Regions from separate parts of the Homo sapiens genome. Here all the other regions are reported to be linked to region 1. The links are microRNA targets in miRTarBase. Many come from high-throughput screens and were not tested one by one. Region 1 holds a microRNA gene; each other region holds the end of a gene's coding sequence.
The links. Region 1 holds the annotated microRNA hsa-miR-665 (ACCAGGAGGCUGAGGCCCCU, at 2,039-2,058, opposite strand). A microRNA usually pairs through its seed, bases 2 to 8, with sites in the 3' UTR of a target mRNA and lowers its output. Matches are read on the target gene's strand: a 7mer-m8 pairs with bases 2 to 8, a 7mer-A1 pairs with bases 2 to 7 and ends in A, and an 8mer does both.

Region 1 (5,101 bases):
TCGCGCCACTGCACTCCAGCCTGTGCAACAAGAGTGAAACTCCGTCTCAAGAAAAAAAAAAAAAAAAGGTGGAGGGATGAACAGGACTACCTTGCAGGGTAAGGCCAAACAGAGAATTTACCAGCAGTAATCACCCGTGCCCCACAGTGGGGGAATCCAGACACGCGCTAAGGTAAGCGTATTTATCCACAGTTCACACACACACACACATATTGACTGGGGGCTCCCGGTGCTAGAGTGGCCACGGCCCCCCACACCAGCAGACAGTGAGGACCTCGCCTCCTTGGCTCCCCTGCCCCATCCAGCCACAGCAGGTTTAGTTTACAGAGAAGAGCGGCAGCCCCCAGGCCCAGAGGAGAACTACTGATAAAGTGATACAACGGACTCTGGGGACTCCAGGAAAAGGGTGGGAGGGGGTGAGGGATAAAAGTACAAACTGGGTTCAGTGTGTACTGCTCAGGTGATGGGTGCACGAGAATCTCACAAATCACCACCAAGGAACTTACTCATGTAACCAAACACCACCTGTTCCCCAAAACCTATGGAAATAAAAAATTCAAAAGAAAAATAATACAAACCTTTTTTTCTCCTGGGGAAAGAAAAAGGAAGGTTAATGTTAAATGTCATGCTGGGTTATGACATCATGGCCACCACAAAAAAAGGTGAAAACTCCTCTGAACAGCAGACAGCACAGCCTGGCGCGGACACTGGCACACAGGCCCACGGGACCTGGCGGGCCACAACTAAATGCACCCATCTTCCACCTTCTCTGTCCACCCCCAGGTCACTGATGTCAGGGGATGGAGGGAGCCCTGAGCTCCACTCCTGCTGAGTCTTGTCCATCAACCTCCCTTCCCGACCCAGCCCACCCCCATGAGATGCCCAACGTGCCAGCCTCCAGCCCTGGTGCACACAGGGCCAGTTTCTGGAACACTCAACAGCACACCACCCAGGCAGCTGAGGGCTACTCACCGCTCGGGTCCGGACTCGCTCATCCCTCCTGCAGGCGGCCCCAGGTCCAGTTAGGGCCTTGGACTCAGGCCCCCGTGCCAGGAGCTTGACCAGCTCTTAACAATCTGCCCAGGGCAGAGACGTGAGGTCCCCTCCTGCCCACCTGGTGACCCCGGTTGCTCCCAAAGTGAAAAAGAGAAAGACAACAAATAGAAGCCATCACCCCCACTCCCAAGCTCCACCCACCCGCTCAGAGCCCTGCTGCGGGGACGACAAGACCCTTGTCATGCCCCAAGCCCATGAGCACTGACCTCAGACCCAAACAGTAAGCCTCGTCCAGACCCCTGTCCACCTGTCTGAGATCAACAAAGACAAGCATACCCATCCTGACACCACAGAAGCTGAGGGGTAGACCAGGAAGGGAGCGGGTGCATGGGGGAAGCGGGGGTGAGGAAGGGGAGACGGGAGGTGGGAAGGAAGGGCAGGGGAGAGGGTGCTCCCTCCTGCAGGAAGGGAGGGGGTGCATTGGGGAGGAGGGGTGAGAAAGGGAAGATGGGAGGTGAGTGGGAAGGGCAGAGGTGAGGGTGCTCCCTCCTACAGGAAGAAGGGGTGCATGGGGAAGGAGGGGTGAGGAAGGGGAGATGGGATGTAAGTGGGAAGGGCAGAGGTGAGGATGCTCCCTCCTGCACCCTCTTGTCCTCTCTAATGGCCTCAGCTACTGCAAGGCCTCTCTCCCCACACTGGCTGCCCTGCTGCCCCGATGCTCATGCCTGGGCTGGCTGTCGTGGCTTGTTAATGGGGTTAATGATGCCAATATCACAGGGCTTGGTGCGGGTCACCTCTGCCATGCACAGGACCTGAGTTAGTCAGAGAGGCAGAAGACAGAGGTCCAAGAACCAGGGGCCACGGCCGTGCCCCCTGCTCATGTTGCCATTGGGCACCCTCAGGTACCCAGCCTGAGCAGGGTACGCACAGGGGAAGAAGGGAGCCCAGCTGACAGCTTCTGGGGACCCAGAGTTGGGAATCCTTGGGGAGAGGGGAAATGTCTCCAGAACAGGTTTAAGGAGAGAGTAAGAAGCCGCCTGTGAGGGGCCTCAGCCTCCTGGTCATGAAAGAGTCCTGGGTAGAGGCAGAGACCCCTCGAGGAGACCCTCCTCTTGGGGCACAGAAAGGGCCAGCCCTGGTCCGCCAAAGCCCCACCCCCTCCACCCTGGGCACAAAGGGGCACCATCTCTCCAACGTCTGTCCATCCATCCTGTGGGCCGGGTCCCTTTGGAGGGCTCTGTGTGGGAGCACAGCCCCAGCCCCTCAGTGGGAGAAGCCCCAGGGCTACCCAACTCCCCCTCCGGCCTATCTGCCCTTGGCTGTGGAGTCAGCCCAGGGGGTGTCCCACCAGGGGCATAGTTCCCTGCCAAGGAGGGGCCTCAGAGATGGCCCAGCCCCAGGCCCTCCCCTCCAGGAAGTCAGAGAGCTGCAGAAGAGAGAGAGAAGAGCCCAAGGAGCATGCCGGGAAGAGGCTGGCAGGACAGCAGCGGACTTGAGGACGCGTCCCCGTGCAGCCAAGGGTGCAGAGGAGGGTCCGGGGGCTGCGCGTGGTTGAAGGGGATGAAGAAAGGCATCATATAGGAGCTGGATAACTGTGCATCAACTCCTGTATGAAGCCGTTCCCACCCCCCAACTACTGACTACGGGCCGCAACCCTCCTCCCGGAAGCGCAGTGCAAGCGCTCGGATGGCAGAGGGGACGCCTGCTGCTAGTGGTTAGAGCAGTGACAGCAAGGGACAGCCAGCCTAGGCAGTGCCACCCACTGCTGGGCACCTGCAGCGCTGGGGTACCTGTCCACCCTGCCCAGCCTTGCCCTACCTGCCTCCTATGGCCAGGGCCTGGGCCTCCCTTAGCCCCACAGAGCCCCCAGGTGACTGTGCAGCCAGGCCAAGGGACGGAGGATGGGGAGGTGAAGGGGGAGACAGGCCTGATTCTGGCCCAGGTCTGTGAGTGGACATCGGGGACTCGACCCCACCCACCCACTGCTTTGACTCCCTGGTACTTCTCCAGCCTTGCCTTCTACATCTGTGAAATGGGTTGCAACAGGCACCTCTGGGGACCCAGTGAGGACTCATGAAGTCCAGGGGCACTTCAAGAATTTCCCAGAGACAGAAAGTAGATTTTTGGTTGCTGAGGGCTGGGGGGTGTGCATGGAGGGTGAAGGTGACAGCTGAAGGCTCTGGAGTTCTTTTGGGGGTGATGAAAATGATCTTAAATTGATTATGGTGATAGTTGCAGATATCTGTGAATAACTAAAACACACTTCGCTGTGAGCTTTAATGGGCGGATTGTGTGTATGTGGATTACATCTCAATAAAGTTGTACCCCAAAACACCTTCCTTTGTTCTTTGACATCTTTCTCAACCACCATACTGCCTGCCTCGTCCTACACTCTCCAGCCATCCACACCACCAACACACATGCACAGGGACACGCAGCCAGGCACGTGGTAGGTGGTGCAAAAATATCTGTGAGTAAATGACCTGATAATATAACATTCTCTGAAAGAGCCCATGGAGGGAAACCTTTAGGGAAAGGGGTTAAAGATTAAGAAGTAGGGGTGGCAGGAGGGTATGGAGGTGGGAAAGAGGCTCAGAGTGACACATGAATGGAAAAGGGGCTCAGATTGACAGACACATGGAGGGAGGAGGGGCTCCCTGTAACACATGGGTGGAGGAGGGGGCTGGTGTGACACACGGGTGGGGGAAGAGCTCCATGGGACACATGGGTGGAGGAGGGGGTTGGTGTGACCCATGGGTGGAGGAGGGGGCTGGTGTGACACATGGGTGGGGGGGGTTAGTGTGACACATGGGTGGAGGAGGGGGCTGGTGTGACACACGGGTGGGGGAAGAGCTCCATGTGACGCATGGGTGGAGAGGGGGTTGGTGTGACACATCAGTGGAGAGAGGGTTGGTGTGACACATGGGTGTGGAGAGGGGCTCCATGTCACATAAGTAAGGGAGGGGCTCAGGGCAATGCATGAGTGGGGGGAAGGTCTCTGGGTGATGCATGGGAAGGGGAGGACTTCAAGTGACATGTGAGAGAAGCTCAGGTGACACATTAGTAGGGAAAAGGCTCCTCATGACACATGAGTGAAGGAGAGGTGGAATGTGAGACAGAAAAGGGGCTCAGTGTGACGTGTGTGGGAAGAGAGTCTCTGTGTGACATATGGGGGGAAGGGACTTGGAGTAACACAAGAAAGGCGACTTGGTGTGACACGTGGGTGGGAAGAGTCTCTCTGTGACATATGGGGGCAGGGACTTGGAGTAACACAAGAAAGAGGACTTGATGTGACACGTGGGTGGGGGAAGATCTCACGGGACACAAGGTTGGGAAGAGATGCCCAGTGAGACACAAGGGTGCAGGGAGGGCTCCGCGTGTCAGAAGGAGTCCATGCAATACATCAGTGGAGGAGGAGCTCAGTACGACACGGGGTGGGAGAGCGGCTCAGTGTTATACATGCATGAGGTGAGGGGTCCATTCGACAAACGGGCAGGGGGTGCTGTGTGCCTTGTGAGTAGAGGAGGAGCTTCATGTGACATATGAGCAGGAAAGAACTCGGTGTAACACATGGACAGGGACAGGGGCTCCAGGTGACACATGAGTCAGGGAAGGGCTCTGAGTAACACATGTTGAAGAGAAACTCAATGTGATACATGGATGGGGAGAGGCATTCTGTATGACTTATGAGTGTGGGGAGAGACTACATGTGTGACACATGATTAGAGGAGGAACTTAGAGTGCAGCTGAATGGGTGGGGCTCCTAGTGACACACACGCAGAGGACAGGGTCAGAGTGACACCTAAGTGGTGGAAGGAGCTCAGTGTGCTACAAGAGTGGGAGAGGGGCGTCCTGTGACACATTAGTGGGGCTTGCTGTGACACCCTTAAGAAAGATAGAACATTCAGTGTGATACAAGTAGATGAGAAATTATTTGTGTCACATGGGTGGAGGCTCCATGTGACATATGAGTGGAGGAGGTGTCGAACATGACACAAGGATGGAGGAGGAGGGGCTCCATGGGACACCTGGGAGGGAGGAGGAGCTGAGGATGACACATGGAAGGAGAAATGGCTCCATGGAACAGGAGGTGGAAGGAGGTGCT
Region 2 (5,101 bases), not on the chromosome of region 1:
TCCGGTTCCGGCCTGGCGAGAGTTTGTGCGGCGACATGAAACTGCTTACCCACAATCTGCTGAGCTCGCATGTGCGGGGGGTGGGGTCCCGTGGCTTCCCCCTGCGCCTCCAGGTACCCGCCGGCGGCAGTCTTCCCTTTTCGGGCGGGATGGTGGGCCGGGGTCCAGTGCTTGCCTAAACTCCTCCGCCCTGCAGGCCACCGAGGTCCGTATCTGCCCTGTGGAATTCAACCCCAACTTCGTGGCGCGTATGATACCTAAAGTGGAGTGGTCGGCGTTCCTGGAGGCGGCCGATAACGTGAGGATCCTTACCCCGCCCCAGCATATCCCGGGGAATGCGGGGCGGGCACACCTCAGCCGGGCTGAGGCGGGAGTTCGGGATGCCCGGAGATAATTTTGGCCTCTTGCCCACAGTTGCGTCTGATCCAGGTGCCGAAAGGGCCGGTTGAGGGATATGAGGAGAATGAGGAGTTTCTGAGGACCATGCACCACCTGCTGCTGGAGGTGAGAAGCGGCCCATCACTTGCTTCCCGGGCCACCTGCCTCCCGCACTGAGGCTGCCAGTGCTCAGCTCTGTCCCTCCCTGCCCGCAGGTGGAAGTGATAGAGGGCACCCTGCAGTGCCCGGAATCTGGACGTATGTTCCCCATCAGCCGCGGGATCCCCAACATGCTGCTGAGTGAAGAGGAAACTGAGAGTTGATTGTGCCAGGCGCCAGTTTTTCTTGTTATGACTGTGTATTTTTGTTGATCTATACCCTGTTTCCGAATTCTGCCGTGTGTATCCCCAACCCTTGACCCAATGACACCAAACACAGTGTTTTTGAGCTCGGTATTATATATTTTTTTCTCATTAAAGGTTTAAAACCAAAAGCGGTTTCTCTTTGCAGCAAATATACATTAAAATAGAGTCTCTGTACAGCCAAGGGCTCTGGGCCCTGGCTTGCCCCATGTCCCTGCGCCTCCCTGGCCAAACCCAAAAATAAATATAGTGTTATTGCTCTGCAGGGCATAGAGGCAGTGCTCTCCTACCCCCTGAGGAGGCTCGTTGGGAGCTGATGGGGAAGCCCTGGCCACCCCAGGGGTCCAGGGGCTGGAGTCTGCTTGGAGTTATTGCTTCAAGGGGGGACACTAATGCCCAATGCAAATGATGAGAGGAGGAGCGAAGGGGGCATGGGCCTTTGCTCTCCAAGTCCCACTCTGCTTTGAAGAGGGGGTAGGATTAAGCAGCAGCAAAAGCATCACCCACTGGGAGACTCTGGCCTCCATCCCCTTCCCTCCCTGAGATAGGTTTCTGCCTCCCACGCATCCCGTGCAGCCCCCTATGGCTTCCGCAAGGCCCCCTACACTCTGGGGGCACGTTATGGCTTGCAAGGGGCAGCACTGTGCCCAGAGCCTGGACACACGTTCCCAGCTTCTGACACCCCCTAGGAGGGGGAGGAGAGGGCGTGGGGCCTGTTCCCAGGGGCTGATGGCATTGCCCTGGCCCTGCCAGCAGGCTGTGGCACTGCCCAGACCCCAGCTCCGCCCCAGCCCTTGGGGCTGACCCCATGCTAGGCAGGTCCTGCCAGAACCCCCACCAGTCCCACCCCTTGCCTCAGTCCATCATGGCCTCGAGCATCTCCAAGAACAGCTTGTGCATGGGCACCTTGCCCTCCAGCTTCACCCCATAGAAATGGGCCAGCACTTTGCCCGCTGTCTGGCGGAGGAGCGGTAGCGTGAGCAGCAGCCTGCCCGCCCGCCGCCGCTCAGCACCCCCTCCGGGGCCAGCCCGGCCGGCTTCATACTCCAGCAGGGCCTCGTGCAGAGCTTCTCGCAGCTGCTCCACAGCCTCGGCATCTTCGATGTGCACAGAGTCTGCAAGAAGAGAGGAATGTGGTGTTGGCCTGGGCTATCTCTGGCAAGGGCACTCCCCGTATCTTGAGCACTGCTGGATGGGGCCTAAGGAAGAGCCAAACGAGGATTTGTTGATTGGCTGACTGAGAGGCACCACTCATTGCTGCGGCTCGTGGGCCAGGACCCCACCCTCTCTCCCTCAACTGTGGCCACCTTGTACCCTCCCCACCTTCCCTCCCACTAAATGACCTTTCTGCATTAGTGTGGCACTAGGGCTCAAAATCCTGTGTGCAGTTTGGAGCCTGCACTTGGCTTGCTTTTTGACTTCTAGCAAGTCATTGTTCTTCCCTAAGCCTCAGTTTTCGTTATCTGCAAAATGGGGCTGTGCTACCGTCACTGAGTTAACCTGAAGACCTTACGGAGACACCTCACCTGTCAGTGCCTGCCCCAGACTCACCTGAATTGGCAAGGGCCAAGGCCTTTAGTAGAACATACTCCTCTCGCTCCAGCCGCAGGGCCTGCAGCCGCCGCACTAGTTGCAGCAGGGCAGCCCCCAGTTCCCCCAGGCCAGCTGCCCGTGCCCCCTCTTCATCCAGGACTAAGTCCTCAGCGAAGGCCAGCTCATCCTGCAGTGGCAGTGAGCGCTGGGCCACACCCAGCACCAGCACCTCCATCCACACGCTCTGCAGTACTGACATCTGGTCAGACAGCGACAGCGATGAGAAGCCTAGGGGGCAGCGGGGAGCGGGCCTGGCTGAGCAAGCGCACCAGAGCCGGGCCCGTTCAGGGCAGCCCCGGGTCACCTGGGCCCTTTACCTGGGATGCTCTTGGCCCAGCTGATGGTGACCACAATCTCTCGGTCAAAGAGGTCACAGAGGGTAGCCACGGCTGGGAGGTGCCCATCAGGGCCTGCGGGGTCAGGCATGGCATAGAGCTTCTCAGGCTCAACCACCAGCAGATGAGACACCAGTGCATTCACTGGGGCTGCTGTGACAATTAGAGGACAAGAGTCAGGAGCACTCGAATCTGTCAGGCCTCAGGGGTCAAGCATCTTCCCACAGTGGCTCCCCCTGTGGCCTTCCTCAGTAGCAGCTGTCCAGTGACTTCCCTCCAGGGAAGAGCGCTAACTGTCTCCCAGGGAAAGCCCGTGTGTTTGTGGACAGGCTGTGAGTGTTGGAAAATCGTCCCTGTTCCCAGTTCTACTACTTTTCCTGATGCAGGAAAAGGCAGTTTCACATGTCTTGGGGAAATGAGTGAGTGAAGAGACGAAGGGGAAATACAGGTCCCAGTGCCCAAGGTAACTATGATGCCACACATAGGCCTCCGGTTTCGTAGCCCCAGGTACCCACAGTGCTCTCACCTGTCTTCCGGGGGCCTCCAGCGACTGCCAGGGGCCCAGCAGGGAAGGGGCCCGGGAAGGGCAGTGGGTCCACCTCCGGCCGCCGCTTGTACTTCTGCCGCCCACCCCGGACGCGGTCCAGGCGCACTCCTTGAATTGTGGGACAGATAGGACTGTGACTGTGGTGCTGTGGGCAGGGTGGGGCTTGCTCTCCAGAGCTGTCCTCCCCGAGTCCACTCACCAGAACTCCCAGGCCTCACCCCCACCTGGCCCGGGTCCCCGACTCCCCCAGCCCTCGCCCAGCCCCTGCCCAGCGCTCACCCTCCTTGAGCATGCCCACCCGCAGGCACTTGGTGAAGCGGCAGGCCTGGCAGGCCTTGCGTCTCCGCTTGGTGATCTCACACTCGTTGGAGGCCGGACAGCTGTACTCGATGCTCCCTGCCAGGAAGAGGCAGGGCTCCAGTGGCGGCCTCCCGGGGCTGGGAGGGGACCCAGCTGACAGGAGAGCCCTGACTCTCCCCGGGCAAGCACAGGTCTGGGGGTATGGGGAGGAAAGGGAGAGCAGGGGGCCATGAGCAGGCAGGGAGGGGAGTGGCTGCTGGGCGGGGGAGCCCTGCCTGGATGAGGGAGGAGCTGGACCAGGCAGCGGGGCTGCATCTCAGCCCCAAGCCTCATCTCTGGACCACACTGCCCTCATCTGCCGACATCAAGGGCCACAAGGACCTCTGCATTGCTAAATCCAGTGGTCAATTCTTAGTCCTCATGTTACTTGGCCTAAAAGGAGGATCTAAGGCTGTTGATCACTTCCTGCTCCTAGAAACACTGAAACACTTTCTTCTTTTGCTTCTAGGACAGCATACACTCTGGTTTTCCTCCCACCGCACCAGCCACTTTGTGGTTTCTGAGCATCTTCCCAAGCTCTTCCATCCAGACTGCCAGGGCTGTCCTTGGAGCTCATCTCCAATCCCATGGCAATCTTCCCCAGCCGTGGGGCTCTCACGTTTCTACCTCTAGCCTGGACTTGCTGTGAGCTCCAGACCCATCTCTCCAGCTGCCTCCTTGACATCCTGCATGTCTAGAAGGCATCTCGGACCGAACACAGCCTACGTGGACTCCACGTGTTCACTTGCCCAAGAAGAAACCTAGGCAGAATCTCTGGTTCCTCTCACACCCCACATCCAAGCCACCGACACATTCTGGTGGGCTTTACCTCCTCCAAGGTCCAGAATCCGCCTCCTGCCCCTGGCAACTACTTCCACCCTTGACCTGATAGTCACTGTCACCTCGCCCCTCGCTTGGCTGTCCCTGCTTGCTCCAGTCTGTTCTCGACTCAGCAGCCAAGAGGGTCCTATTAAGCCTCCATTACATCCTGTACCTCCTCTTCTCAAAACCCTCTGGGGATTTCCCTTCTCTGAGTCCAAGCCAAAGCGAACCTATGTCCTCCTAGGCCTACGCCCCTGCTTCTTGCCTCCTTTTGACCTCTACTCCTTGCTCTCGCCTCCTCCATGTTCCTCAAACAGGCCCTGCCTGGAGCTCTAGTCCTGAAGTCCACACAGGCTCCCTCACCTCCCTCTGCTCACTGTCACCTTGAAGATCTTCCCTGGCCACCCTGTGATAATGCCAAATCCCTTTGCAGAGTCCTCCTGGCCTCTGAGCCCTGCTTCTGGTTTCTCTTCAGCCCTCAGCACAACAGACCACGCTGCATATGCACTCACCTATCTTGTTTATTACGCCTCCCCCTTCAGTGGCAGCTCCACCGGGGCAGGAACTGGCCCCAGCACTAGCAACGAGGCCTGGCACATGGTGGGTGCTGGCAGCCCTCCCGGCCTCACAGGGCCCCGCAACGACCAAATGACACAGCTAGACAGCAGGCCCGCAGCACATTTCTCCTCGCGGTGCATTTTCTCCTACCCCCTATTTGCGCTTCT
Region 3 (5,101 bases), not on the chromosome of region 1:
TTAGTATTTAAATAACCATAATGCTTTTCATTACATATTTTCTTTATAAATGCTGTCTTGGATTTGGAAAAAAAAAAACTACTGGGGTTTGTAAATAGCCCTCCTTAATGTGCACCATTACTATCTATTCCGTTTCATGGTCATATTCTGTCAATAATCTATATACAAACTATAGTTTTTATTTCTGCTCTCCTGCTCTCTCCAGGAATCAAAAAGATCAGAATCTCTTATGGACATACATCATAAAAAGTTAAAGAGTAAGGCTGCTGAAGACAAAAATAAGCCTCAAGAGAGAATACCATTTGACCGTGATAAAGATCTCAAGGTTAATCGGTTTGATGAAGCTCAGAAAAAAGCCCTAATAAAAAAATCTAGAGAACTAAACACCAGATTTTCACACGGCAAAGGCAATATGTTTTTATAAGTAAGTATATTTCAGTGAGGTATATTTTAATACTGATCAATGTGAACTTTTCTAAATACTCTATTGTCTTTAATAATTGTGCTGAAATCTATTTCCTTTTATAATAGATTAAAAATTTTATATTTTTATAAGTAAACAGTGATTTTTGAAAAGTCAGCCTTGTGGGATGAAAAATATGTCTTACTGGAAAAATCCCTCATAATAACCTAATAGGGCATTGCTATTAAAAATGCTAAAATAAAAATTCAGCTTATGAGAAATGGCAAAGGAAGGTGTGGTTTGATACTTGAGTAAATATGCATGCTTTATTAAAGATGAAGAAAGGCTTGCTGGTTGTTTGTATGTTAAACAAAATCCCAACTAGGAAATGTTTGTTGCTTAGAAAGGTCCCCTATAAGTTAAGGTTCAAAACTATTCCAATATTCATCCATAGCCCAATCTGACAAGGGTTCAGAATGGTGATTAAGAAATTACATAAAGCTGGGTGCAGTGGCTCACGCCTGTAATCCCAACACTTTGGGAGGCCAATGTGAGAGGATCGCTTGAGCCCAGTAGTTTGAGACCAGCCTGCTTAAGATGGTGAGACCCCGTATCTACAAAAAACTAACCAGGTGCAGTGGAGCACACCTATAGTCCCAGCTACTCAGCAGGCTGAGGTGGGAGGATCCCTTGAGCCCAGGAATTCAAGGCAGCAGTGAGCTGTGATTGTGCCATTGCACTCCAGTCTGGGCAACAAAGTGAGACCTCGTCTCTTTAGAAAAAAAAAAAGAGGCCAGTGGCTCACACCTGTAATCCCAGCACTTTGGGAGGGTGAGGCGGGTGGATCACCTGAGGTCAGGAGTTCGAGACCAGCCTGAACAACATGGTGAAACCCCATCTCTATTAAAAATATATATATATAAAAATTAGCCAGGTGTGGTGGCACGTGCCTGTAATCTCAGCTACTTGGGAGCCTGAGGCAGGAGAATTGCTTGAACCCGGGAGGTGGAGGTTACAGTGAGCCGAGATCGTGCCACTGCACTCTAGCCTAGGTGACAAGATCGAGAGACTCTGTCTCAAAAAAGAAAGAAAAAGAGAAGAAAAGAAATTACATAAAAGCTGAGGTTGCTTCTTAATATCTTTATGATTTTTAATTGTATTAAACCTATATCAATATTCAAATGTGATTTTTGAGGAAAATATGTTAAATTTAGAAATATTTTCCAACTTACTGAGTTTTCTTATTCTTACCTCAGGGGGATTTCCCTGTGCAATGAAGAAAAGTTGAAGAATACTCTTTGTCCATCTTTATTTCTTTGTTTTTGGCTTCTTAAGATTAGAGATTACTTTAATCTTAAAAAACATACAAATTTACCTTGTTCTGTATGTCCTTTTAAGGTCATGTGGAAACATAAAACGAATGTTTTTTATGTAGAACAGAATATTCTATGTGCCTTTAGCTTCTGTGGAAGTATGGGGAATTATGGGCTTTTCTTCAAATAATTATTTTAAGAGGCTTCCATTCCCCCTGATTTTTGTGGTGTCTCACAAGTACCCTCTAAGGTCTGGTCAGGACTGACCACCAAATCTCTACCACAGCCTGGACCTCCTTGTGAAATATACCTAACCTGCCCTAGAGTCAGTGTGTCAAGTCCTTACTGTAAATCCATGACTTTGAAATTTGTTGTTTTTTCCCTTTAAACTGCAGCCAGTGAATACAAATTTACTTGAAAATAGAGGGTATGGGGTTTTGCCTGTTTTGTAATCAGTTTGCTTGTTTTAGCACTCAGGGCTTTTTATTTGTTATTTAATTTTTTAATTGTTTTTAAGTCAGAAAGATCTCTGGGTTATCTCATGTGCTAAGGAAAAACTATTTTGCTTTTTCCAACTTTAATAGTTAGTATTTCTAGGGGAGGCAATCAAGATAAGATATGCCATTAACTGTTAGCATTGTGAAATCTGTAAGACTCAATCTCTGATCTCAACCAAAGCTTTCTGAGTCCTGGAACTTTGCTTTGGGACAACTTTACTTTACCCATTTATATGCTGTACTTAACAGTTTGTAGCTAATTTATGGGGTCATATCTTTTTTTTAGCTAATTTACGGGGGTCATATCAGTCATGAATAGCCTTTTTTAAAAATTTAATAATCCCTGAATACAAAAATGGAAATGGAAAATTTATAATCATAACCCCCCTAATTGGGAGTATTATAAGTTTGTAATGCTTTAAGCACTGCCTCTTAAGATGATAAATTTATAAGATGAGAAATTCTATTTAAACTATTAAACTATTGTTAAATAAATGCCAATTCTATAAGTTATATTTTCTTGCAGATTAATCCCAATTGTTCCACTAGTATTCTAGTTTTGATGAGACACAAATTTTTGTTGTTGTTTATTTTTGTTTTTTTGAGAGATGGAGTCTTGCTCTGTCACCCAGGCTGGAGTAGAGTGGCGTGATCTCAGCTTACTGCAACCTCCGCCTCCTGGGTTCAAGCGATTCTCCTGCCTCAGTGTCCCAAGTAGCTGGGACTACAGGCGTGCACCACCATGCTCAGCTAATTTTTGTATTTTTTAGTAGAGATGGGGTTTCACTATATATTGTTCCAGGCTGGTCTCGAACTCCAGACCTCAGGTGATCTACCTGCCTCGGCCTCCCAAAATGCTGGGATTACAGGCATCAGCCACCATGCCTGGCCAAGACACAAATTTTTAATGGAAAAATATTCTGATTCCCAGTTCATGTAAGCTTTATGAAAATTGAGTATATTGTTTATATGATGGTACAAATTATTCTTCCTCTAATAATAGCAGTACAGTATATTTTTTCCATAGCATCAGTGTAAACCATAGCAAACTAAAGGAGCATTGCTATTAAAAAGATGAATTAGCTGGGCGCAGTGGCTCATACCTATAATCCCAGCACTTTGGGAGGCCGAGGTGGGTGGATCACCTGAGGTCAGGAGTTCAAGACCAGCCTGACCAACATGGTGAAATCCTGTCTCTATTAAAAATATAAAAATTAGTCGGGCCTGGTGGCGGGTGCCTGTAATCCCAGCTACTCAGGAGGCTGAAGCAGGATAATTGCTTGAACCTAGGAGGCGGAGGTTGCAGTGAGCCAAGATCACACCATTGCATTCCAGCCTGGGCAACAAGAGTGAAACTCCATCTCTAAATAAATAAGTAAATAAATAGATGAATTTTTCTCCTAAGCAAATTGAAAAAGCTTCTTGTGTACTCAAAATTGAACAGAGCTACCTTTTGACTAAAAATGTCATTTTTAATGAGCAGTATTTTCTGAACACAAAATTTTGTACAAGAGTGTCTCCATTGCATTAATTTAATTTTGTTATAATTTTTTCCCAATGAAAGGAAAAAAGTATTTTGTAGCTCCTCTTCCTTATGTAAATTCTTAACATATATTTTTGAGAAATTTGCATTTTTTAAAGTAAAATTGTTATCTTTGGATACTTACTTTTCTTTGTTTTCCTCATTTAAAGAGAATAGGGATATTTCTGTATTATATATTTACTGTTTCATCCCTCACCTTTGGAGTGACCATGACCTTGGCATGAAGGAGAGAAACCTCTGCTTTCCGCCTATTGCTTCCAGGAGTTACTACCTTACTGGCCTTGGAGATAATGCTCTTTTGTGCCAACCTGAGGATAATTTTAACAAAATGTAAGGCCAGTTTCAGAGGTTGTTTTGCCCCACAGAGAGACTAATCCCAATACAAGAATATTGACAACAAAAGGACAAAGTAGTTATTGCACAGGACGGAAAGGTGTCTTTATTTCATCCCCTCCCCACTTCCAAAGATGCAAAAGGCCTAATTGAATCAAGTCTCCTTTCCATCTGGCAGGAGACATTTTAATAAGGACTTTTTAATTTCCTACATTTCTTGGCCAAGTGTCATAGGAATGTGGCCTCTTTTGAAATTTAAAAATGAAGAAGAAAAAAAGAGCAACACTAAGTTAATATAATGGAGCAGATACTTTTAATGTTCTTACCATTGAATATGCCATTTAAGTTTGTTATACTTGAAATTATATGATTTTTGTCCAGCTCTCTAAATTGTCATCTCCAATAGATTTAGATGCTTCAAATAGTAACCACATTACTGGTAAGTAAACGGTGGGGTTATTGGGTTTAGCAAGTGGGGAAGTAAGGGGTGAACAAAACACGAGAGATGGTGGCTACACCCCTACTAAGACTGCCTTACCAGATAAATGAAATCCTTTTTGTATTAGGCACAACATGGTAAATTAAGTCTTGCTCTAAAAAAAAAGAAAAAGAAAAAAGAGAAAAGCCCTGATCTAAGAGTTTTTAGATGCTAGCAACCTTGTTTAGATGTAGATCTTGTTTAGATGTAGCAACCACTTGACATTTAATTTATCATCTTAACCTTGAATGATTCTTTGTTTTGTTTTTTGTTATTGAGATGGAGTCTCACTCTTGCTGCCCAGGCTGGAGTGCAGTGGCGTGATCTCGGCTCACTGCAACCTCCACCTCCCGAGTTCAAGCGATTCTTCTGCCTCAGCCTCCCAAGTAGCTGGGACTACAGGCGCCCACCACCGTGCCCAGCTAATTTTTGTATTTTTAGTAGAGACGGGGTTTCACCATGTTAGTCAGGCTGGTCTCGAACTCCTGACCTCAGGTGATCCGCCCACCTCAGCCTCCCAAAGTGCTGGGATTA
Region 4 (5,101 bases), not on the chromosome of region 1:
ACAGGGAGGTTAGTCAGGCCCTGCTCCCTGTGCACTCACTCTTGGTCTAATTTCTTACCAGTGGATGATTCTGTTTGAGCCTTTCTCTCTAAGAGTCTCTCTCTAGAAACCTACCCCTTTCTGGTAGATATGATCTCTGTCCCACTTACTTTCTCTCTTGGGTGGCCTGAGGGTAAGGTGATATATAGTCTTTGAAATTGATTATATTATGTTTCTAATCCTTTCATTTGTAGGTATCTAGGAAAAAAGCTAAGGGAAATAAGACGGAAACCCGCTTCAACCAGCTGGTCGAACAATATAAGCAGAAATTATTGGGACCTTCTAAAGGAGCACCTCTTGCAAAGAGGAGCAAATGGTTTGATAGTTGATGATGGCAGCAGGCTGGGTAAGAAGCTGGGTTGTGTACTTTCTGGTGACACTCCTGGGCTCCTCCCCATCCCCCGTGTCTCTCACTGAGGGAAAGAAAATCCCCAAGGGCACTGCCACTGTGCTCGGAGGTGCCCTGGACTGTGTACATCTGAACTTTGGTCCATCCTTTGATGTGTGGTTCGTTAGCCACAAAGAGAAATATCTGAAAGTCAACATGATGCTTCTTGCATATTATCCAGATTATTGTATGAAGTTGTGTCTATAATTATTACCAATTTTTATTCTTTATTTCTCAAATGGAAACACCTGAAAAAGCATTCTGGAGTGCTGAATTTTTAAGATGTATATTTTGTTAAGCATATTCTCTAAATGAGATATTGTGTGGCTTTTTAGTAACAACGTCATTTCTAATATGTGTGACTCCTTTATTATGTATGAACATTCTTTGACATTCCTAATTCAGCTCTGTAGTCTTACACACTGCAGGAACTGTCTAAGCGAGAGCAGAGAGAAATGCTTTCTAACCTAATCGCTGCAGGCGGAGACACTTGGAAAAGAATGGGGGGAGGTGGGGCCTGACAGAGAGCAGCACTTATGTGTTTGTCAGATGAGGGGATTTCCAGTTGAATTGGCCTGCAGTGGCCTAAAGACACTAGCCTGGTTAGCGATGACCTGCATTTCTCTCATAGAGCACCTCCCTTTTCATCGTATCCACTAGCTCTCTAAGTCCTCCTTAATGAGGACACTTGATCCTCATTAAGTCTGCCCCTTAAGATGGCTTCACACCTACTGAAAAACTCCAGGGGTTTGACATCTCACTTTGATTGAAATCTTGTCTTCCTATAACATTTGATTCCCTGGGCTCTTCAGCCCTATCACCTCTGCTTGTCTTTATCCACTCTCTTCTTCATTCACTTTTGGCTACACAGGCCTTCCTTCCATCTCTTGACTCTTGACCACCTCAGAGCCTTTGTATCCGTTCCCTTTGCCTGGAGAGTTTTTCCCTTGCATCTTTTACTTGTCACTCAGATCTCCACTAGTTGTCGCCTCCTCCTGGAGCTCTTCCCAGACTATCTAAAGTAGGGCTTTTCTTCCCCTCCCCTCTATCTTGCCCCCTTACTGAAATCTGCTTCCCTGTTTCTTCTTCTTTTTTTTTTTTTTTTGAGATGGAGTCTCACTCTGTCGCCCAGGCTGGAGTGCAATGGCGCTGTCTCAGCTCATTGCAACCTCCACCTCCCGGGTTCAAGCGACTTTCCCGCCTCACCCTCCCAAGTAGCTGGGACTACAGGTGCACGCCACCATTCTTGGCTAAATTTTGTATTTTTAGTAGAGATGGGGTTTCACCATGTTGACTAGGCTGGTCTTGAACTCCTGACCTCAGGTGATCCGCCCACCTCGACCTCCCAAAGTCCTGGTATTACAGGCGTGAGCCACCACGCCTGGCCTGCTTCCCTGTTTCTTTCTAGCACTAATCTCTATCTGAAATCATTTGTCTCTTTCTAGCACTAATCTCTATCTGAAATTGTTTGTCTCTCCAGTTAGAATGTATGCTTTGTGAGAGGGACTTTATCCCTCTTGTTCACTCCTGTAGACACAGCACCTAGTACTGACCCAGGCACGTAGTAAGTATTGAATAAATATTTGTTGAATGAAAAAAATAAGGTAGGAAAGGAAGAAACAGTATTCAGTAGGCAAGAGAAAAAGTTGAGAACGTGGCCCAAAATTCTTGATTGCTTAGTCTAGTTGAGTGTTACAAATAATGCTTTGACAGAACCATTGCTGAGCTAGAGATATGGTTATTTCTTTTTTTTTTTTTTTTTTGAGACAGTCTTGCTCTGTTGCCCAGGCTGGAGTGCAATGGCATGATCTTGGCTCACTGCAACCTCCGCCTCCTGGGTTCAAGCGATTCTCCTGCCTCAGCCTCCCGAGTAGCGGGGATTACAGGTGCTGCCACCACGCCCGGCTAATTTTTGTATTTTTAGTAGAGACGGGTTTTCACCATGTTGGCCAGGCTGATCTCAAACTCCTGACCTTGTGATCTGCCCACCTCAGCCTCCTGAAGTGCTGGGATTACAGGCATGAGCCTGGTTGAGACATGGTTATTTCATCGCAATATCTTGGGGAACCCATGAATGCTCTGAAATGCCTTTGGTTTAGAAATGGATGAAGGAGAGGCCATGGAAATATTTAGACCTTTTGGAGAGATCGAAAGGACAGGTGATTTATCTCCAAGTTCACCTCGAGACATGACTTGGGCTGTCAAATGTTCTTACGGTAGCCTGGCAACATGTCTTTCTCAGCCTGGTCTGTACAGTGTGGAGGAAGTAAGGGACTTTATTAAGAGTGTCACAATAGCTATAACCTGCCAGTCAGGTGATCTGTTTTTCCTTGGCCATCTCTCCGTCTGCTCACCACTCTTTTTTCCCTAGTACACGAATATCTTTAACATTCAAAAATATATCTTAACACTTAGGATAGATCAAAATTGGTGTTCATTCAGATAACATTGTCAGATTCTCTTAGATCCAAATATTTCTTTTAACAACTTAACAGTATGTTAAAACCTCATTCACTTGCTTGGAGAGCTGTTGTACAGTTCTTTAAAGAGTTCTTTATATGAGGTTGAATCTTCCCTTTCTTAATAGTCAAATTCTATATATGGTGTCTTCCTTTGGAACACCTTACCATGGGCTATTTGGTCAGCTCCATTGACTCCTTGCCTTGGGAATTTTAGTGCAGTGAGAGTTGTGCTCACTTCTCCTTCACTTCAGGGCCTGATGTGTCAGGAAATGGAGTTTTCTGAATTAACATGAAAGTTGAGTTGCAGATTGCTTGGTTAAAAAACAACAGGTGGGGCACAGAGTCTCATACCTATGATTGCAGCACTTCGGGAGGTGGGAGGATTGCTTGAGGTCAGGAGTTTGAGACCGACCTGGCCAACATAGTGAGACCCCCATCTCTATTATTTTGAAAAACAACAGCAAATTTTTTCTTAACATCCAAGACAAGGCCACCAGTCAAAACTATCAAGTTTTAGTAGTATTTTCCTGCTTGATTATATAATAGCCTGGCTTAGAGATACAACCTTTAAATAAGGAATCTTAAGATGATGTGCAGCTGTTCTTTGCCTTATTTGTTTGTTTGTTGGTTAGTTTGTAGTTTCTAAGAATCTGCTCTGTTCAGCTGTACAGTTCCTTCTTCTGGAGTTAACCTGTGGCAAGGATTATGTTTCACCTGTCACAAAAATGAGATCTGTGCCTTCCTCTATTATAAAGTTAGGGCATGTGATTCATTCTTCGAAATACTTCAAAATGTACTTTGGTATGTTTTTGTCTTGAAAAGAGGTTTTCTAGCTAGAAATTCGGGGCCCAGAAGGTCAAGGCTCCAGAGATCCCCTTCTCATCATCCTTCAGTTGTCTGAGGAGACAGAGGATCACATGTGTCACAGTGAGTGCTGATTCCCCAGAATCTGCAGTCTTAAGCTCCCCTGCTGACGCACACAGCCAGTTCTCTGCTTCATATTCATGTGACCCACTGTGAAGTGACAGGCAGCTGCCAATTCTGTCATATAAGAAGCAGCTCTGCCCATGCAACTTTGAAAGTTCCTGCACTTCTCCATAGACTGCTCCTTCATGGAAATAAACACATCATCACACTGTGGGTGCCTAAGCTAAGTTTGTTTGCAGTTTGATGATGCCCAGCTCCTTTTCAACTCAGCCTTAATTGGCACTTTAAGGGCCAGGATGAGGTTTCTCTCAGGCCAAGTCGAGATTTCCAGATTTCCTTTTGTCCAAGGCTGACCAGTTTAGAAGTTATTCACATCCTTGTTTTAGTTCTTTCCTTCTTGTCCTGGTACCTCTTCCTTTCCAGGATTATTTGCAGAGTCTGTGATGGCTTACTTGGTGACCAGACATGGGGTGAGCTACTGGTATAGTCTGATTACTTTGGCATCTATTCTGAACTGGTCATTGGCTGTACATGAGTTTTTGTGCTGGTAAAGGAATATACTGGGAAGATTGGAAGGCACAGACTGGGAACTAATTCTGAGAAGAGAACTGCTGAGTTACTGAAAGACCTTTTGGACCACCCCTAAATGGAGCATCTTGATAGATGGCAAATCCAGTGTTTCTTAAACTTGTCCATGCTGCCCAGAGCCCACTGCCTTTTATCAGATGTGAGACTTCACTGCCACAGTGTCATCCCACAGTTTCCTTCCCTGGACATTTGATAAAGGGAAAATCATTTCTTGTCCTTTAAGGCAGGGACTATTATTTTTTCACTTTTCCACATACCCCACAACACCTAACATTGATTTACTCGTAGTAGGAGTTTCATACTGTTGAACTCTCTAAAGGCCATTTGTTCCAGGGCCTAGCTGGGCTTGTGAAGGACAACAGAGTCATTTCCTAAGGACCCCAAAAGACAGCATGAAGGAAAAAATAATAATAAACTGCTGTTCACAGTGCCTTGAGTGTACCACCGTACTTTCTGCTATGCCTTGTCCATTCCAATCTGGACAGTCTCTGTGCCCCTCCTTTCCACTCAAGTGTTATCCAGCACTCAAGTTCTGGCTCAAGGCCCAACATCTCCGTGGGGACCTCAGCCATCCCAGGGCATTGTGACCCCTTCCTCTAAGTCCCCGGCACACTCGCTGATTGGTACCCTCTCATTCGACAAAGCATATGCCATTGTGGCTTACTTGTCATTTCTTTAGGTCTTGCCTTCCCAAGTA
Region 5 (5,101 bases), not on the chromosome of region 1:
AGAGGGCAGGGGTCACTGAGCGGAGAGCAGAGGAGGAGTGAGCCATTTGCTCCAGCGTGAAGTTGTTGGTGTGATGGGGTTTCAGGGTGGCAGGAGCAGTGTGGTTAAAGGTCTGGAAGCTGTCGGCATGTGGCTGGTATCCAAGGTGGCCAGGAACTCTGCATGGATATGGTGGGAAGCTGGCACGCCTCTCACCTCAGCTCTTCCCTGCAGGCTCTGTGGATAGCAACTGGATCGTGGGTGCCACGCTGGAGAAGAAGCTCCCACCCCTGCCCCTGACACTGGCCCTTGGGGCCTTCCTGAATCACCGCAAGAACAAGTTTCAGTGTGGCTTTGGCCTCACCATCGGCTGAGCCCTCCTGGCCCCCGCCTTCCACGCCCTTCCGATTCCACCTCCACCTCCACCTCCCCCTGCCACAGAGGGGAGACCTGAGCCCCCCTCCCTTCCCTCCCCCCTTGGGGGTCGGGGGGGACATTGGAAAGGAGGGACCCCGCCACCCCAGCAGCTGAGGAGGGGATTCTGGAACTGAATGGCGCTTCGGGATTCTGAGTAGCAGGGGCAGCATGCCCAGTGGGCCTGGGGTCCCGGGAGGGATTCCGGAATTGAGGGGCACGCAGGATTCTGAGCACCAGGGGCAGAGGCGGCCAGACAACCTCAGGGAGGAGTGTCCTGGCGTCCCCATCCTCCAAAGGGCCTGGGCCCGCCCCGAGGGGGCAGCGAGAGGAGCTTCCCCATCCCCGGTCAGTCCACCCTGCCCCGTCCACTTTCCCATCTCCTCGGTATAAATCATGTTTATAAGTTATGGAAGAACCGGGACATTTTACAGAAAAAAAACAAAAAACAACAAAAAATATACGTGGGAAAAAAAACGATGGGAGGCCTCCGTTTTCTCAAGTGTGTCTGGCCTGTTTTGAGCATTTCATCCGGAGTCTGGCCGCCCTGACCTTCCCCCAGCCGCCTGCAGGGGGCGCCAGAGGGCCGGAGCACGGAAAGCAGCGGATCCTTGATGCTGCCTTAAGTCCGGCTCAGAGGGGCGCAGCGTGGCCTGGGGTCGCTATCTTCCCATCCGGAACATCTGCCCTGCTGGGGGACACTACGGGCCTTCCCTTGCCTGAGGGTAGGGTCTCAAGGTCACTTGCCCCCAGCTTGACCTGGCCGGAGTGGCTATAGAGGACTTTGTCCCTGCAGACTGCAGCAGCAGAGATGACACTGTCTCTGAGTGCAGAGATGGGGGCAGGGAGCTGGGAGAGGGTTCAAGCTACTGGAACAGCTTCAGAACAACTAGGGTACTAGGAACTGCTGTGTCAGGGAGAAGGGGCTCAAGGACTCGCAGGCCTGGGAGGAGGGGCCTAGGCCAGCCATGGGAGTTGGGTCACCTGTGTCTGAGGACTTGGTGCTGTCTGGATTTTGCCAACCTAGGGCTGGGGTCAGCTGATGCCCACCACGACTCCCGAGCCTCCAGGAACTGAAACCCTGTCTGCCCCCAGGGTCTGGGGAAGGAGGCTGCTGAGTAGAACCAACCCCAGGTTACCAACCCCACCTCAGCCACCCCTTGCCAGCCAAAGCAAACAGGCCCGGCCCGGCACTGGGGGTTCCTTCTCGAACCAGGAGTTCAGCCTCCCCTGACCCGCAGAATCTTCTGATCCCACCCGCTCCAGGAGCCAGGAATGAGTCCCAGTCTCTCCCAGTTCTCACTGTGTGGTTTTGCCATTCGTCTTGCTGCTGAACCACGGGTTTCTCCTCTGAAACATCTGGGATTTATAACAGGGCTTAGGAAAGTGACAGCGTCTGAGCGTTCACTGTGGCCTGTCCATTGCTAGCCCTAACATAGGACCGCTGTGTGCCAGGGCTGTCCTCCATGCTCAATACACGTTAGCTTGTCACCAAACATACCCGTGCCGCTGCTTTCCCAGTCTGATGAGCAAAGGAACTTGATGCTCAGAGAGGACAAGTCATTTGCCCAAGGTCACACAGCTGGCAACTGGCAGAGCCAGGATTCACGCCCTGGCAATTTGACTCCAGAATCCTAACCTTAACCCAGAAGCACGGCTTCAAGCCCCTGGAAACCACAATACCTGTGGCAGCCAGGGGGAGGTGCTGGAATCTCATTTCACATGTGGGGAGGGGGCTCCCCTGTGCTCAAGGTCACAACCAAAGAGGAAGCTGTGATTAAAACCCAGGTCCCATTTGCAAAGCCTCGACTTTTAGCAGGTGCATCATACTGTTCCCACCCCTCCCATCCCACTTCTGTCCAGCCGCCTAGCCCCACTTTCTTTTTTTTCTTTTTTTGAGACAGTCTCCCTCTTGCTGAGGCTGGAGTGCAGTGGCGAGATCTCGGCTCACTGTAACCTCCGCCTCCCGGGTTCAAGCGATTCTCCTGCCTCAGCCTCCCAAGTAGCTAGGATTACAGGCGCCCGCCACCACGCCTGGCTAACTTTTGTATTTTTAGTAGAGATGGGGTTTCACCATGTTGGCCAGGCTGGTCTCAAACTCCTGACCTTAAGTGATTCGCCCACTGTGGCCTCCCAAAGTGCTGGGATTACAGGCGTGAGCTACCGCCCCCAGCCCCTCCCATCCCACTTCTGTCCAGCCCCCTAGCCCTACTTTCTTTCTGGGATCCAGGAGTCCAGATCCCCAGCCCCCTCTCCAGATTACATTCATCCAGGCACAGGAAAGGACAGGGTCAGGAAAGGAGGACTCTGGGCGGCAGCCTCCACATTCCCCTTCCACGCTTGGCCCCCAGAATGGAGGAGGGTGTCTGTATTACTGGGCGAGGTGTCCTCCCTTCCTGGGGACTGTGGGGGGTGGTCAAAAGACCTCTATGCCCCACCTCCTTCCTCCCTCTGCCCTGCTGTGCCTGGGGCAGGGGGAGAACAGCCCACCTCGTGACTGGGGGCTGGCCCAGCCCGCCCTATCCCTGGGGGAGGGGGCGGGACAGGGGGAGCCCTATAATTGGACAAGTCTGGGATCCTTGAGTCCTACTCAGCCCCAGCGGAGGTGAAGGACGTCCTTCCCCAGGAGCCGGTGAGAAGCGCAGTCGGGGGCACGGGGATGAGCTCAGGGGCCTCTAGAAAGAGCTGGGACCCTGGGAACCCCTGGCCTCCAGGTAGTCTCAGGAGAGCTACTCGGGGTCGGGCTTGGGGAGAGGAGGAGCGGGGGTGAGGCAAGCAGCAGGGGACTGGACCTGGGAAGGGCTGGGCAGCAGAGACGACCCGACCCGCTAGAAGGTGGGGTGGGGAGAGCAGCTGGACTGGGATGTAAGCCATAGCAGGACTCCACGAGTTGTCACTATCATTTATCGAGCACCTACTGGGTGTCCCCAGTGTCCTCAGATCTCCATAACTGGGGAGCCAGGGGCAGCGACACGGTAGCTAGCCGTCGATTGGAGAACTTTAAAATGAGGACTGAATTAGCTCATAAATGGAACACGGCGCTTAACTGTGAGGTTGGAGCTTAGAATGTGAAGGGAGAATGAGGAATGCGAGACTGGGACTGAGATGGAACCGGCGGTGGGGAGGGGGTGGGGGGATGGAATTTGAACCCCGGGAGAGGAAGATGGAATTTTCTATGGAGGCCGACCTGGGGATGGGGAGATAAGAGAAGACCAGGAGGGAGTTAAATAGGGAATGGGTTGGGGGCGGCTTGGTAAATGTGCTGGGATTAGGCTGTTGCAGATAATGCAACAAGGCTTGGAAGGCTAACCTGGGGTGAGGCCGGGTTGGGGCCGGGCTGGGGGTGGGAGGAGTCCTCACTGGCGGTTGATTGACAGTTTCTCCTTCCCCAGACTGGCCAATCACAGGCAGGAAGATGAAGGTTCTGTGGGCTGCGTTGCTGGTCACATTCCTGGCAGGTATGGGGGCGGGGCTTGCTCGGTTCCCCCCGCTCCTCCCCCTCTCATCCTCACCTCAACCTCCTGGCCCCATTCAGGCAGACCCTGGGCCCCCTCTTCTGAGGCTTCTGTGCTGCTTCCTGGCTCTGAACAGCGATTTGACGCTCTCTGGGCCTCGGTTTCCCCCATCCTTGAGATAGGAGTTAGAAGTTGTTTTGTTGTTGTTGTTTGTTGTTGTTGTTTTGTTTTTTTGAGATGAAGTCTCGCTCTGTCGCCCAGGCTGGAGTGCAGTGGCGGGATCTCGGCTCACTGCAAGCTCCGCCTCCCAGGTCCACGCCATTCTCCTGCCTCAGCCTCCCAAGTAGCTGGGACTACAGGCACATGCCACCACACCCGACTAACTTTTTTGTATTTTCAGTAGAGACGGGGTTTCACCATGTTGGCCAGGCTGGTCTGGAACTCCTGACCTCAGGTGATCTGCCCGTTTCGATCTCCCAAAGTGCTGGGATTACAGGCGTGAGCCACCGCACCTGGCTGGGAGTTAGAGGTTTCTAATGCATTGCAGGCAGATAGTGAATACCAGACACGGGGCAGCTGTGATCTTTATTCTCCATCACCCCCACACAGCCCTGCCTGGGGCACACAAGGACACTCAATACATGCTTTTCCGCTGGGCGCGGTGGCTCACCCCTGTAATCCCAGCACTTTGGGAGGCCAAGGTGGGAGGATCACTTGAGCCCAGGAGTTCAACACCAGCCTGGGCAACATAGTGAGACCCTGTCTCTACTAAAAATACAAAAATTAGCCAGGCATGGTGCCACACACCTGTGCTCTCAGCTACTCAGGAGGCTGAGGCAGGAGGATCGCTTGAGCCCAGAAGGTCAAGGTTGCAGTGAACCATGTTCAGGCCGCTGCACTCCAGCCTGGGTGACAGAGCAAGACCCTGTTTATAAATACATAATGCTTTCCAAGTGATTAAACCGACTCCCCCCTCACCCTGCCCACCATGGCTCCAAAGAAGCATTTGTGGAGCACCTTCTGTGTGCCCCTAGGTACTAGATGCCTGGACGGGGTCAGAAGGACCCTGACCCACCTTGAACTTGTTCCACACAGGATGCCAGGCCAAGGTGGAGCAAGCGGTGGAGACAGAGCCGGAGCCCGAGCTGCGCCAGCAGACCGAGTGGCAGAGCGGCCAGCGCTGGGAACTGGCACTGGGTCGCTTTTGGGATTACCTGCGCTGGGTGCAGACACTGTCTGAGCAGGTGCAGGAG

Region 2: miRTarBase lists TRMT112 as a target of hsa-miR-665. The part of its 3' UTR that is shown has no 7-base or 8-base seed match.
Region 3: the mRNA of GPALPP1 is a reported target of hsa-miR-665. Seed matches in the 3' UTR shown: 7mer-A1 at 2,404-2,410.
Region 4: miRTarBase lists RBM28 as a target of hsa-miR-665. Seed matches in the 3' UTR shown: 7mer-m8 at 419-425, 8mer at 1,420-1,427 and 7mer-m8 at 2,259-2,265.
Region 5: the mRNA of TOMM40 is a reported target of hsa-miR-665. Seed matches in the 3' UTR shown: 7mer-m8 at 357-363.

The regions. Positions count from the first base shown.
Region 1 is chr14:100,872,032-100,877,132 of GRCh38, reverse strand. It overlaps MIR665 (microRNA 665), which reads right to left and starts at 2,100; the gene lies at 2,029-2,100. It overlaps MIR337 (microRNA 337), which reads right to left and starts at 2,640; the gene lies at 2,548-2,640. RefSeq lists an enhancer at 3,292-3,461.
Region 2 is chr11:64,312,461-64,317,561 of GRCh38, reverse strand. TRMT112 (tRNA methyltransferase activator subunit 11-2) reads left to right here and starts at 3. Exons shown (of 4, transcript NM_016404.3): 1 at 3-113; 2 at 197-298; 3 at 415-504; 4 at 594-1,102. The coding sequence starts at 36. The coding sequence ends at 701. ESRRA (estrogen related receptor alpha) reads right to left here. Exons shown (of 7, transcript NM_004451.5): 3 at 3,495-3,611; 4 at 3,195-3,323; 5 at 2,651-2,821; 6 at 2,292-2,561; 7 at 819-1,855. The coding sequence ends at 1,596. RefSeq lists an enhancer at 984-1,499.
Region 3 is chr13:45,027,580-45,032,680 of GRCh38, forward strand. GPALPP1 (GPALPP motifs containing 1) reads left to right here. Exons shown (of 8, transcript NM_018559.5): 8 at 206-2,726. The coding sequence ends at 424. Among named protein-coding and RNA genes, the nearest start is that of GPALPP1, 41 kb to the left of the region's middle.
Region 4 is chr7:128,306,064-128,311,164 of GRCh38, reverse strand. It overlaps RBM28 (RNA binding motif protein 28), which reads left to right. Exons shown (of 19, transcript NM_018077.3): 19 at 234-5,101. The coding sequence ends at 368. It also overlaps the pseudogene LOC100418961. Among named protein-coding and RNA genes, the nearest start is that of RBM28, 35 kb to the left of the region's middle.
Region 5 is chr19:44,902,817-44,907,917 of GRCh38, forward strand. TOMM40 (translocase of outer mitochondrial membrane 40) reads left to right here. Exons shown (of 9, transcript NM_001128917.2): 9 at 214-873. The coding sequence ends at 353. APOE (apolipoprotein E) reads left to right here and starts at 2,980. Exons shown (of 4, transcript NM_000041.4): 1 at 2,980-3,025; 2 at 3,786-3,851; 3 at 4,944-5,101. The coding sequence starts at 3,809. RefSeq lists enhancers at 2,297-3,099, 3,902-4,704.